Regions from separate parts of the Homo sapiens genome. Here region 2 is linked to region 1. Evidence: fine-mapped expression QTL. Tissue or cell type: whole blood. Region 1 holds a variant in brackets; the other region holds the start of a gene. All regions are shown on one strand. Distances are between the middles of the regions. Region 1 overlaps NCF2 (neutrophil cytosolic factor 2). Region 2 holds the start of NCF2 (neutrophil cytosolic factor 2).

Region 1 (5,374 bases):
TAATCCCAGCACTTTGGGAGGCTGGATGGGTAGATCACCTGAGGTCAGAAGTTTGAGACCAGCCTGGCCAACATGGTGAAAACCTGTCTCTACTGAAAATACAAAAATTAGCCGGGCACAGTGGCGGGTGCCTGTAATATCAGCTACTCGGGAGGCTGAGGCAGGAGAATCACTTGAACCTGGAAGGCAGAGGTTGCAGTGAGCTGAGATCACGCCACTGCACTCCAGTCTGGGTAACAGAGCGTGACTCCGTCTCAAAAAAAAAAAAAAAAAAAAAGATAATTTGATGTTATACAAATTGCACCTCAATTAAAAACATTTCTTTTTTAAGAGAGAAGAAAGCAAGCCTGTGTTAGCAGGGGTGGGGTGAATGCTCGTTTCTTCAGTTGCTGAAATCCTAATCCAGAGGCTCAGGAATCTAATCCTTAGTTACTGTCCACGTCTGAAACCAGGCTCACGTAAGAACAGGTCTAGGGCATGAGCAAAGAGGGAGACCCAGAAGAATGGAAACAGTGCTGGCAGAGCCTCACACCCTCCTGTCCTTGATTTTAGGTCGTGGCATCTGTGGTGGATCAAGACAGTTTCTCTGGGTTTGCCCCTCTGCAACCACAGGTAAGGCAGTCCTGACCTTCTCCATGGACCTAGGTCTCGAGAGCTTTCTGTGAAGCATTCAATTCGAGAGACTATGTGTGCTGAGTTGCCTGATTGTAAGGGCTCCTTCAAGTGGCCCTCAGTGCAGCTGAGGGATCTGCCTGCCCTCTCTCAGTCCTGGTTTCCATGGCTGGTGAGGAAATAAGGCAGTGTCAGGCTTCACCCCAAGTCCTCTGAAGCTAACTCTCCTGCTTCCCCACAAATGCCGGTCTTCACATCTCTAAAGAGATCTGCTGATCCTCTCTCTGAAGCCTCAACTATTCTCTCAGGAAGCTGAAACACAAGCTATGGAAGGCTTATTAACAAAGCCTCTTCTTGAGTACAGGGGCAAGTGGGGAACCCTGTGGGGCCTGGGCCTGAGGTTTGGGCTCTCCTGGCTCTACCCATCTGCTCATGTGCAGGGGTTTCCTTCGGGAACACAGGCAGCGCACTGAGAGTGAACCCTTTTTCTGCCCAAGCTGGGCTTGGAGAGGTGAGCTCAGATGAACTGGATGATAGTGGATCTAGAAATGCACACAGAGCTTCCTTGTGAAGGAAAGAGGGGAAAACACATTAAGGAAAATACGAACTCTGTGGCAATGAACCTGTGATGGGCAAGAGTGTTGGTCAGCACTAGCAGAGGGCGGTTTTCTGAGCAGGGGCAGGTATGTTCCAGATCTAGATTCCTTGATCTCTTTCTTCACAATAAAGCTGATGAAAGCCTTGCTGAAGTCCCTTGAGCTTCAGTTCAGCCAGAGGCCATGAGGGGAATGCAGCCCAGGTAACTGGATTCCATGGTATTCAGTGTAGAACAGGGGAGGAGATTCTTGCCCAGTCAGTGGATCCTGTGTCAATTTTAAATACTCAGAAGTGGCCAGGCACAGTGGCTCACGCCTATAATCCCACCATTTTGGGAGGCTGAGGTGAGCAGATCACTTGAGGCCAGGAGTTCCAGACCAGCCTGGCCAACATGGTGAAACCCCTGTCCCTACTAAAAATACAAAAATTAGCAGGGTGTGGTGGCACATGCCTGTAATTCTAGCAACATGGGAGGCTGAGGCAGGAGAATCACCTCAATGAGGGAGGCAGAGGTTGCAGTGAGCCAAGATCGCGCCACTGCACTCCAGCCTGGGCGACAGAGTGAAACTCCATCTCAAAAAAAATTTTTTTTAAATTAATTTAAAAATACTCAGAAGTGTCATGTGACATAGTAGACATTAATTACAGAACAGAGCTTTTGGAAACTGTCCTGGGAAAAGGACAGAGCTCAAGGTCAAAGCATTCTTGTGACACCATGTTGCTGTGTGACTGCTAACCTCCAGAAACTAGCTCTGGCTCAAAATGAATTGCTGTGCTAGTGAAACCTGTACCTGGGGAGCTGGTGGGAGGTGTTATTTCCCAGTGTTTAGTCAGGGTGACTGTGCCCTCTTCCTAGACAGTGTTCTCATCAGTCAGAAATGCGTTATTTGATTTTCTGGTCTGGAAGAATGCTCAAATTACCATTAGCCGTTTGTTGTCTCTCCCCTGCTTTCCCTCATTGCCTTTTCCGTTTTCACTTCTCCTGAATGTTCAATAGGCAGCTGAGCCTCCACCCAGACCGAAAACCCCAGAGATCTTCAGGTAAGTTAGATTCAAATCCATAAATAGAATATCCAAGCGCCAAGCCTGAGCTGATGGCAAGAAAGGGAGGGAAGAAGATGAAGGTGGGGTCAGGGTCTAAATCTTGTTGAATTTTCTGGAATGTCAGGCTTCTTCTAGAATGTCAGGCTAGAAAGGAATGCCTAGAAGAATGTCTTCTAGAATGTCAGGCTAGAAAGGAATGATATGATGGGGATGGGAGTCTTGACTGTGGTGGGGCTGGCCATCAGGGCTTGGCTGCAGCTACGTGGTGTCCCATTGGCCCTCTGTCCACGTGCACAGCCACCCACATGGCAAGGGGTTGTTGCTGAGGGGCAGTGGTGTTCTGTGGAACATAGCTACCCTGGGGACCAGGATGCTGACCTCAGGTTGGAGATCGGTTTCGCACTGGCTGCAGTC[C/G]CCTCTGACGGGGGCAGGCCAGAGCTCTCTGGAGTCAGGAATCTAGAATGACGTCCTTTTTCCTGTGTGGATGTTTTCCACTCCCTATCGGCACATGCTTTCTGAAGAAGTAAAGAGGAAGGACTGAAGAAAAGGAAGTCCTTCTTCTGTAAGATGAAAAACAAAGGGTGACATAACCTACAGCTTTCTTAAGAATTCTCTCAAAGTGATGAAGCAAGCCTGGTCCTCCCACCCAAAAAGGAGGTTTTAAAAAGTGATTGGCCAGGTGTGTGGCTCATGCCTGAAATCACAGCACTTTGGGAGACTGAGGTGGGCGGATCACTTGAGATCAGGAGTTCGAGACCAGCCGGGCCAACGTGGCAAAACCCCATGTCTACTAAACATGAAAAAATTAGCTGAGTGTGGTGACTGACATGTGCCTGTAATACCAGCTACTTGGGAGGCTGAGGCAGGAGGCTCACTTGCACTCAGGAGGTGGAGGTTGCAGTGAACCAAGATCATGTCACTGCACTCCAGCCTGGGCAACAGACCAAGATTCCGTCTCAAAAAAAAAAAAGTGACAAAAGTACCAAAGCAACTACAAAAATGAGGGGGCTGGATGAGCTCATTCCTAAGCTCCCTGTCAGCTGGAAGGGCCTGTATTCCCTACAGGAGTAGGCACGATGTCTGGAAACAAGGATGGGCCGAGGGGAAAGTAACAGAGTGGGGAGTAAAGGGAGGGAAGCCTGAAACCTGAACACCAGCCTCTCAGTCACACGTTCCAAAGTGATGCCAATCAGAGCCTCAAAGCCTAAAAGCATGAAGTCAGACTTAAGGGAACCGACACTGCACCACGGCAGCTGGGCAGCCTCAGAGCCCTCTATGTGCATCCCTCACGCTCCCTGTCACCTACCCTGCTCACGGTCTCTCTATCCTGGCCCAACACTGGTTCTAGGTGGTTTCTCCTTCCTCCTCTCCCACCAATCTTTCTGGCCCAGCTGGCTCTCACCTGACTTCTGCTTTGTGCTGTTCCCCTGACCACAGTCACCTGATCCACCCCACCCCAGCCCAGCCTTGGGTGCTGGCCAAGATGACACAGCCAGGGACCTTCCTCCTCAGAGCAGAAGGGAGGGCAAGGATTGTAAGTCCTCACTATCTAGTGTTGTGGGGTTTTTGCTTTATTCTTGCCCCTCTGCATATATGGTTATGAGCAGGTGTACACCAGTTTCTTGCTGAGACCTCTTGGGAGCCCAGGCAGGCTCAGTGTCATCTCGGCAGTTGCAGTTAGATGTGGAGTTAGAGCCAGGCTGGAGCCAAGTCCCTGGCTCCAAGTTCAGTGTATTTGCGCCATGGCATCATGTGAGGGGATGGGGGCTGGATCTTGTGTCTATCCTCTGCAGGGCTCTGGAAGGGGAGGCTCACCGTGTGCTATTTGGGTTTGTGCCTGAGACAAAAGAAGAGCTCCAGGTCATGCCAGGGAACATTGTCTTTGTCTTGAAGAAGGGCAATGATAACTGGGCCACGGTCATGTTCAACGGGCAGGTATGCAGAGGATCAGGGGCTGGTGCGATGGGCATGGGATCCTGGCAGCAAATGCAGTCTCTGTGGAGCAGTATCTGCTGCCTTCTTTGCAGACCAGCCAAGTTCTTTTGTCTGTTCGTCATCCCTTCCCCAGGACTCTGGGCTGTTCTGTGGTGTGGGTACTGATGAGCACATCTTTATTTTTTCCTTTCTGATTCTGTGGTGCTGCACTGCAGAAGGGGCTTGTTCCCTGCAACTACCTTGAACCAGTTGAGCTGCGGATCCACCCTCAGCAGCAGCCCCAGGTAATGTGATGCCAAGGCCTGACCCATTTCCTCTCACCCTTTAGGGATCTCTCCCTGGAGGGGAGAAAAGCAGTGTAAAAGAGGTGTTGTCAGGACCCCTGGAGAAAGATTCACTAGTCTTGAGCCCGCCTTGAGATGGCACCAGCTACCCAGAGCTGAACCTGGGAATGAGGGGAAAAAAGCCCAGATGTGCTAAGTTGGAGGCATCTGTAGGTCCCATTGGGCCCACCCACCTCTGTGACTCTTCCTGGTCAGAAGTCACTTGGGAAGCAAAGCCTACAGTATATGAGTGGGTTAGGTCTTCCCAAGTGTGTCTGCTTCACGTGGAAGAGTAGTCAATGTGTTGGCTGGTACAATGCCATTAGAAAGAAAATGAGGCCAGCTGCAGTTGCTCATGGCTGTAATCCTAGCACTTTGGAAGGCTGAGGTGAGAGGATCACTTGAACTCAGGAGTTCGAGACCAGCCTGGGCAAAATAGAGAGATGCCACCTCTATACAAATAAAAATAATAAAATGAGATCTGCCTTAGAGCTTTGAATCAGAGTGGGCCTTGCCAGCCACTGCTTCTAAACTGCTGCTACTCCCTCCCTCACACTTCAAAAGTCTGTCCTTCTGCCAGGCCTAGAGAGCTGTCTTTGTCAGATCTGAGCATCCCTGTAAGTGACTCAATGGCAGTGGAGACTGTCTGTCTCTAGACTGTGCAACCAGTTGTATATGAGCTCAGCCCTCCCTGGTCAGTCACCATATCCAAATGCTTTGAAAAGCTTCAAATGCCTTGCAAATGAGAAGTGGAATTTTTCCTTTCTCAATGCCCTCTGCAGTGGAGACAAGAGCTCAGTCCTGCCCCACGGCCAGTGGATTTCCAATATGGCTGAAAGAGTTGCTAAAGCGGCAAGGGCGTT
Region 2 (5,374 bases), 22 kb before region 1:
GAGTTCGGGTTATATCCTGAGAGCAGTGCAAAGCCATGGAAGGTTTAAAAACAGGGGCCATGAAGTGATCTGACTTGTGTTTTTAAAAGCTCAATCTGGATGGAGAGGCAAAGAAATGTTAAAAGACTATCATGTTCACCTGGGAGTTGATAGTGGCTTGGCCTGAGTGGTGACAGGAGAAGGGGAGGGAAAGTGGATGAAATGGAGCATGAATGGCTTTGCTAGTGCCCTGGGGGATACAAACATGGGTTAGCCCAGGACTTCCTCCTGAGGCACACTATTTGAGGTGCTAAGACTTGCATGCACATACATTGGTGAAGAGTGATTAAGGGCCACATGGGAGGTGCGGAGAAGGAGATGCAGGAGTTCAGAAGGCGAGATCATGGGTTTGAGCGCTTTCAGGCAGGACTGATTTCAGGGCAGTGTGTTAAGGAGAGTGCTATTTTAGCAGGCCTTCGAAGGCTATGCAAGGTGGGTTTGAAGGTGCAGACATGGGAGAGGGCAGCCTAGAAAGAGGAACTAGCACGAGTCGCACAGATGCAGGAATGAAGGCATAGCGGGAGAAGAGTAAGCAGCAGAGTTTGTATGGGATTGTGAAGGAAAGTTCTGGGGATAAGGCTAGAAAAGTCTTGGCAGTCAGATTAAGGAGAGTTCTGAGTGTCAGGGTGGGATAATAGGAGGGCAAAAACATTTTTTAAAAATGAAGTCTAATTTAGCTACAAATCCATTTGGTTTTCTCAGGAATAATTAATGTGCTATTCAAGTCCTGATTATTTATTCACTAGATGGAATAGCAATACCTCTTTCTGCCATCACTGCTACCTGCAGGTCATTTACCAATGATTTCTAATTTCTTTTAGAATGTATCCCTTCATCATGTATTGAGTATCTGTGCTAGAGATCCTAGAATGAAAAGGCATGGTCCCAACTTCCAAGGAGCCCATGAATTGAGCAGATAAAGAGATAAATTGCAGTAAGTATGATGCAAGTTTTTGGGTAAAGGTGGTACAAAGGAGAGGAAAATTCTCCTACTACCCAGAGTTCAGGGCTAGATTTAGCACAGTTGGTGACATTTAAACTGGGCTTTGAAAGATGAGTAGGAGTTTGCCAGGCAAAGAAGAGAGCTGGGAAGGCCTTGTAAACACAGGAAAACAATCTGGACAAAGACACACATGTCTTCTTAATTCTCACACCTTCAATCCTACAAGCACTGTGGAGTATACATTTTTAAGTTTTATTTTCAGGCTTTTAGGGGAAGCTTGGTGATAATGAGTGAATTCTTTCAGTTGCTACAAAACAAGAGTTTGCATCTAAGTATTTGACCCCCATAAACATGCATTTTACCTAAAAAGAAGCCTGGATTTTAGCAAGCCAAATTGGCTATACCCTTTACCCCCAGTTATTCCTCTGGGAGGTTTTACTGATTTTTACTTTTCTGGAAAAGCAAGGAAAGAACTCTTAAATCTGTTTTTTCAGAGACTAGTAAATCCATTAGTCATCAGTGCAGGACTTTCATCTCTTCAATTTTTCACTGGAAGATGGGAGAAGTCATAATTCACTGTCATGTGGCTCCCAATTTTGACATTTGCAGGAAATTGGTCCCCTCTGAACTTCATGAATGTTCATAAAAGTTATTTCGGCTGGGCACGGTGGCTCACTCCTGTAATCCCAGCACTTTGAGGGGAGGCCGAGGAGGCCGAATCACCTGAGGTCAGGAGTTCGAGACCATCAGCCTGGCCAACATGGTGAAACCCCATCTCTACTAAAAATACAAAAATTAGCAGGGCGTGGTGGCAGGCTTCTGTAATCCCAGCTACTCAGGAGGCTGAGGCAGGAGAATTGCTTGAACCCAGGAGGCAGAGGTTGCAATGAGCTGAGATCGTGTCACTGCATTCCAGCCTGGGCAACAAGAGTGAAACTCCGTCTCAAAAAAAAAAAAAAAAAAGTTATTTCAGGCCCAGATCAGATGGATCTCCAAAGATTATCCTGTCTCAAAAATTTGTTAATGATAATTTCAGCTCAAGATAAACACTAACATATTAATACAGCCTATGGGATTACAAAAAAGTGAGCAAGGAATTCATTCAAGACTGGAAAGAATTATCCTCTCATCTGACACTCCCATTTAACAAGGGTGTGGAAATCAAGGCCCAGTGACACAGGATTTTTTCTCCATCACTTTGTAAGCCAGGAACCTCTGGCTGGTGACACCCTGCCCAGGCCTCAGTGGGCCACACTACCTGCTGCAGGAGATGGCCTGCCCACTCGGCCTGGGTGGGGAGTTTTATTGAGTGATGAAAACAGCTTTCAGTGGAGAGGGGATGCAGGGGTGGTTCCCCTACCCAAAGGCAGGAAAGTCCCCCCAGTGCGGGTGAGTCTGGGGCTTTTATGGGCTCAGAATAGGGGAGGGGCAGGACATAGGTAGTACTGGAAAAGGCAACATTCAATTGGTTAAAAGGCATTAGTCAGAAATAATTAATTGGGAAAGAGCAGACAAACAGGAACAGAAGTTCTCACTCTAGGTCACGGGTTTCATTTGGGACCAGTAGCCTAGTCTTTCAGCCTTCAGGCTGTTTTTGGCTTGAAGGTGGGGTTTCACCAGGGACCTGCCCCTATCTGCCTAGGCATTTGGCTGCCTCCTGTCATTATCACCAGGGAGGTGCCTCTACCTGCCAAGGTTACCCTGGCTCTAGAAGCAGAACTTTGGCCAGAAGCTGCCACAGAACAGGGGTGGGAGAGAGAAGAGGAGCTGGGTGACAGAGCAGAAGCATTTTGGGGAACTGATCCTTCAGGCAGCAGCTGATGTACTTCCTCTCTCCTCCACACTCCACCCCTACTCGCCCTCTCTCTCTCTGCTTCTTTCCTTTTCTCTCTCATGGTAGGGTTATGAGTCAGTTGCCAAAAGGTGGGGACATTTCCTGATGCATTTGCAACACTGAGAAGTTATCTTAAGGGAGGCTGGGCCCCATTCTACTCATCTGGCCCAGAAAGTGAACACCTTGGGGGCCACTAAGGCAGCCCTGCTAGGGGAGACGCTCCAACCTGTCTTCTCTCTGTCTCCTGGCAGCTCTCTTGGCCTCCTAGTTTCTACCTAATCATGTCCCTGGTGGAGGCCATCAGCCTCTGGAATGAAGGGGTGCTGGCAGCGGACAAGAAGGACTGGAAGGGAGCCCTGGATGCCTTCAGTGCCGTCCAGGACCCCCACTCCCGGATTTGCTTCAACATTGGCTGCATGTACACTATCCTGAAGAACATGACTGAAGCAGAGAAGGTGAGTGGAGGTGCCTCTTTCCGGGCCTCCTCTGTGCATTTGTTATTATGATTCTCAACCCCATTGCATTTCGGAAACCTAACCTCTGGGGAGATTGAAAAGAACAAAAGTTGCCCAAGCTCCACCCCTAGACAGCCTGATTTAACTGGTCTGGGAGGGGCCCCAGGCAGCCAGTTTTAAAAGCTCTCCAGGTGGAGAGCAGGTGAGGGGCAGCCAGGGTTGCCTCTTTCTCCATCTTCTAAATTAAAATCATTCTACAAGTGTCTTTAACACCTTTGTGAAGGCTGTCCTAGTCGTACTTTCTTCTACACAGAACTCCTTCTGGGCACAGAATCTCTATCTATCCCAGCGCTTTACACCTGATTATTGATTCTAAGGCACCTCTTTTGGCTTTCCAAGACTTTCATGTGTGTCGACTTTGCCTGCTCAAGAGATTTAAGGGAGGCACTTACAAAAAATAGCTTTTATCCCAAGTGACAATTCTGATCAATTATAAAGGAGACTCTTTTAAAGATGCTGAGGCTGGCAAGAGGAAATTGTACTGTGATTGACTAGTGATGTCTGCTGGGGGCATGGTGTGGGATGTCTCGCATCTTTTTCGTTATGTTTTCTCACTCAAATACCATAGTATGGAGTTAAGCATTCTCGATAATTATTTTTTTGATTGGTTGTGGTAAGGTGGAAAGGGTATGGAGTTTGGAAGGAGAAGATCTAGGATCGAATCCTAGCCTCTGTCTCTCTCTGGACTTTTAGTCTTAAGCAAGCTATGTAGCCTATGTAGACATCTGGCTTTCAGCTTCCTGAGTTTCTAAATATCATGAAAATTAAGTGAGATGCCAAACTATTAATGTCTCGTGGAACTTCACACCACTGTATAAGAGTTAGTTATTATTTTTACCGATTACTGCCAGTCTTTGCAAGGTGTGGCAGTGGTTGACTCCCCAGGTCCCTTAAAGAATCAGTCCCTTCCACACTCCAACAGTAGGTAAACAAGCCTCAGCCACACCCTCCTGACAGGAAGACAGAGAAGTGACTGAAATGTTCTCACATAGCTTGACAAGTCAATCTCAGGCTCTAAGGCAGAGCATGGCAGGACCCCCCACCTCTGGCTGGAGGAAGGACATGGCCCCACCTCCTCTCAGGGGCCTGCTGAGGGGCTGAGTGAACAGCACCACACATTCTGAGGGCTGATGGACACAAAGTGCACATTGTCCAGGAGAAGAGATTGGCAGCTAGTCTGGGCACAGCTATGCCAGCAGGGACTGTAGCCTCCTGCCTTGGCCTGGATATGGGATCCTTGGCAAGGTTGTGTGGGCCACCACTCACTTCTCAGCTCCCAGGCCTTCAGGCCCACATGTCTCTGTTTCTCCTGGCATTCCTCTGCTTCTAGCCTTCTCATTCCTTCTGCCTTTCTTTGTTTTCCTGCTTGAGCCCTTCCTACTAGCATTTATATGCATTCTTATTCATTATCATTTTAATTGTATACTATTCATGTATAAGTTTGTATAGTAAACAAATATAACAATTTATATAATATTTTAATTATTTTCATTTGCAATAAATTTTATTATTTATTTAAACTGAATGTTCAATACATTCATAGGAATACAAGAAATGCAACAAGGGTTAAAATTTCATTATTACATTAGATATCATTTTTTCTTTCTTTTTTTTTTTTTTTGAGATGGAGTCTCACTCTGTCACCCAGGCTGGAGTGCAGTGGTGCAATCTCGGCTCACTGCAACCTCTGCCTCCTGGGTTCAAGTGATTCTCCTGCCTCAGCCTCCCAAGTAGCTGGGATTACAGGCATGCACCACCAAGCCCGTCTAATGATGTTTCATTTTTCAAAGAAGCTTCTCCTATTTCCCTATCTTTTTTATCTTCCACAGAGCAATAAATAGTAATTACTACTCTCCTGGACAAGGTGCTCTGTTGTGTTGGATAGGAATTGTATCTTTAAGTTTGACATCATTATCACCTCCAAAAACTCTACCTTCACTTCATAGCACAGTCTCGCTGCATTGTTTCACAGTAAAATTGTACTCTACTCAAACTAGGAGAACTCAAAGAAATTAGAGCAAACAGCAGTTAAATTCATATGAA

The links. PIP is the estimated chance that this variant, and not a neighbour inherited with it, causes the effect. A credible set is the group of variants that fine-mapping cannot tell apart.
Region 2: it holds the start of NCF2, and the variant in region 1 is the best candidate, but not a certain one, in a credible set for the expression of NCF2 in whole blood (INTERVAL, PIP 0.78).

The regions. Positions count from the first base shown.
Region 1 is chr1:183,566,018-183,571,391 of GRCh38, reverse strand. NCF2 (neutrophil cytosolic factor 2) reads left to right here. Exons shown (of 15, transcript NM_000433.4): 6 at 553-612; 7 at 2,207-2,250; 8 at 4,047-4,188; 9 at 4,404-4,472. Among named protein-coding and RNA genes, the nearest start is that of NCF2, 22 kb to the left of the region's middle. RefSeq lists a silencer at 96-261 and an enhancer at 3,590-3,649. The variant C/G (reference allele first, on the strand shown) is at 2,668.
Region 2 is chr1:183,588,053-183,593,426 of GRCh38, reverse strand. It overlaps NCF2 (neutrophil cytosolic factor 2), which reads left to right and starts at 2,968. Exons shown (of 15, transcript NM_000433.4): 1 at 2,968-3,271. The coding sequence starts at 3,098. It also overlaps the pseudogene C18orf32P1. RefSeq lists enhancers at 2,239-2,578, 2,689-2,948.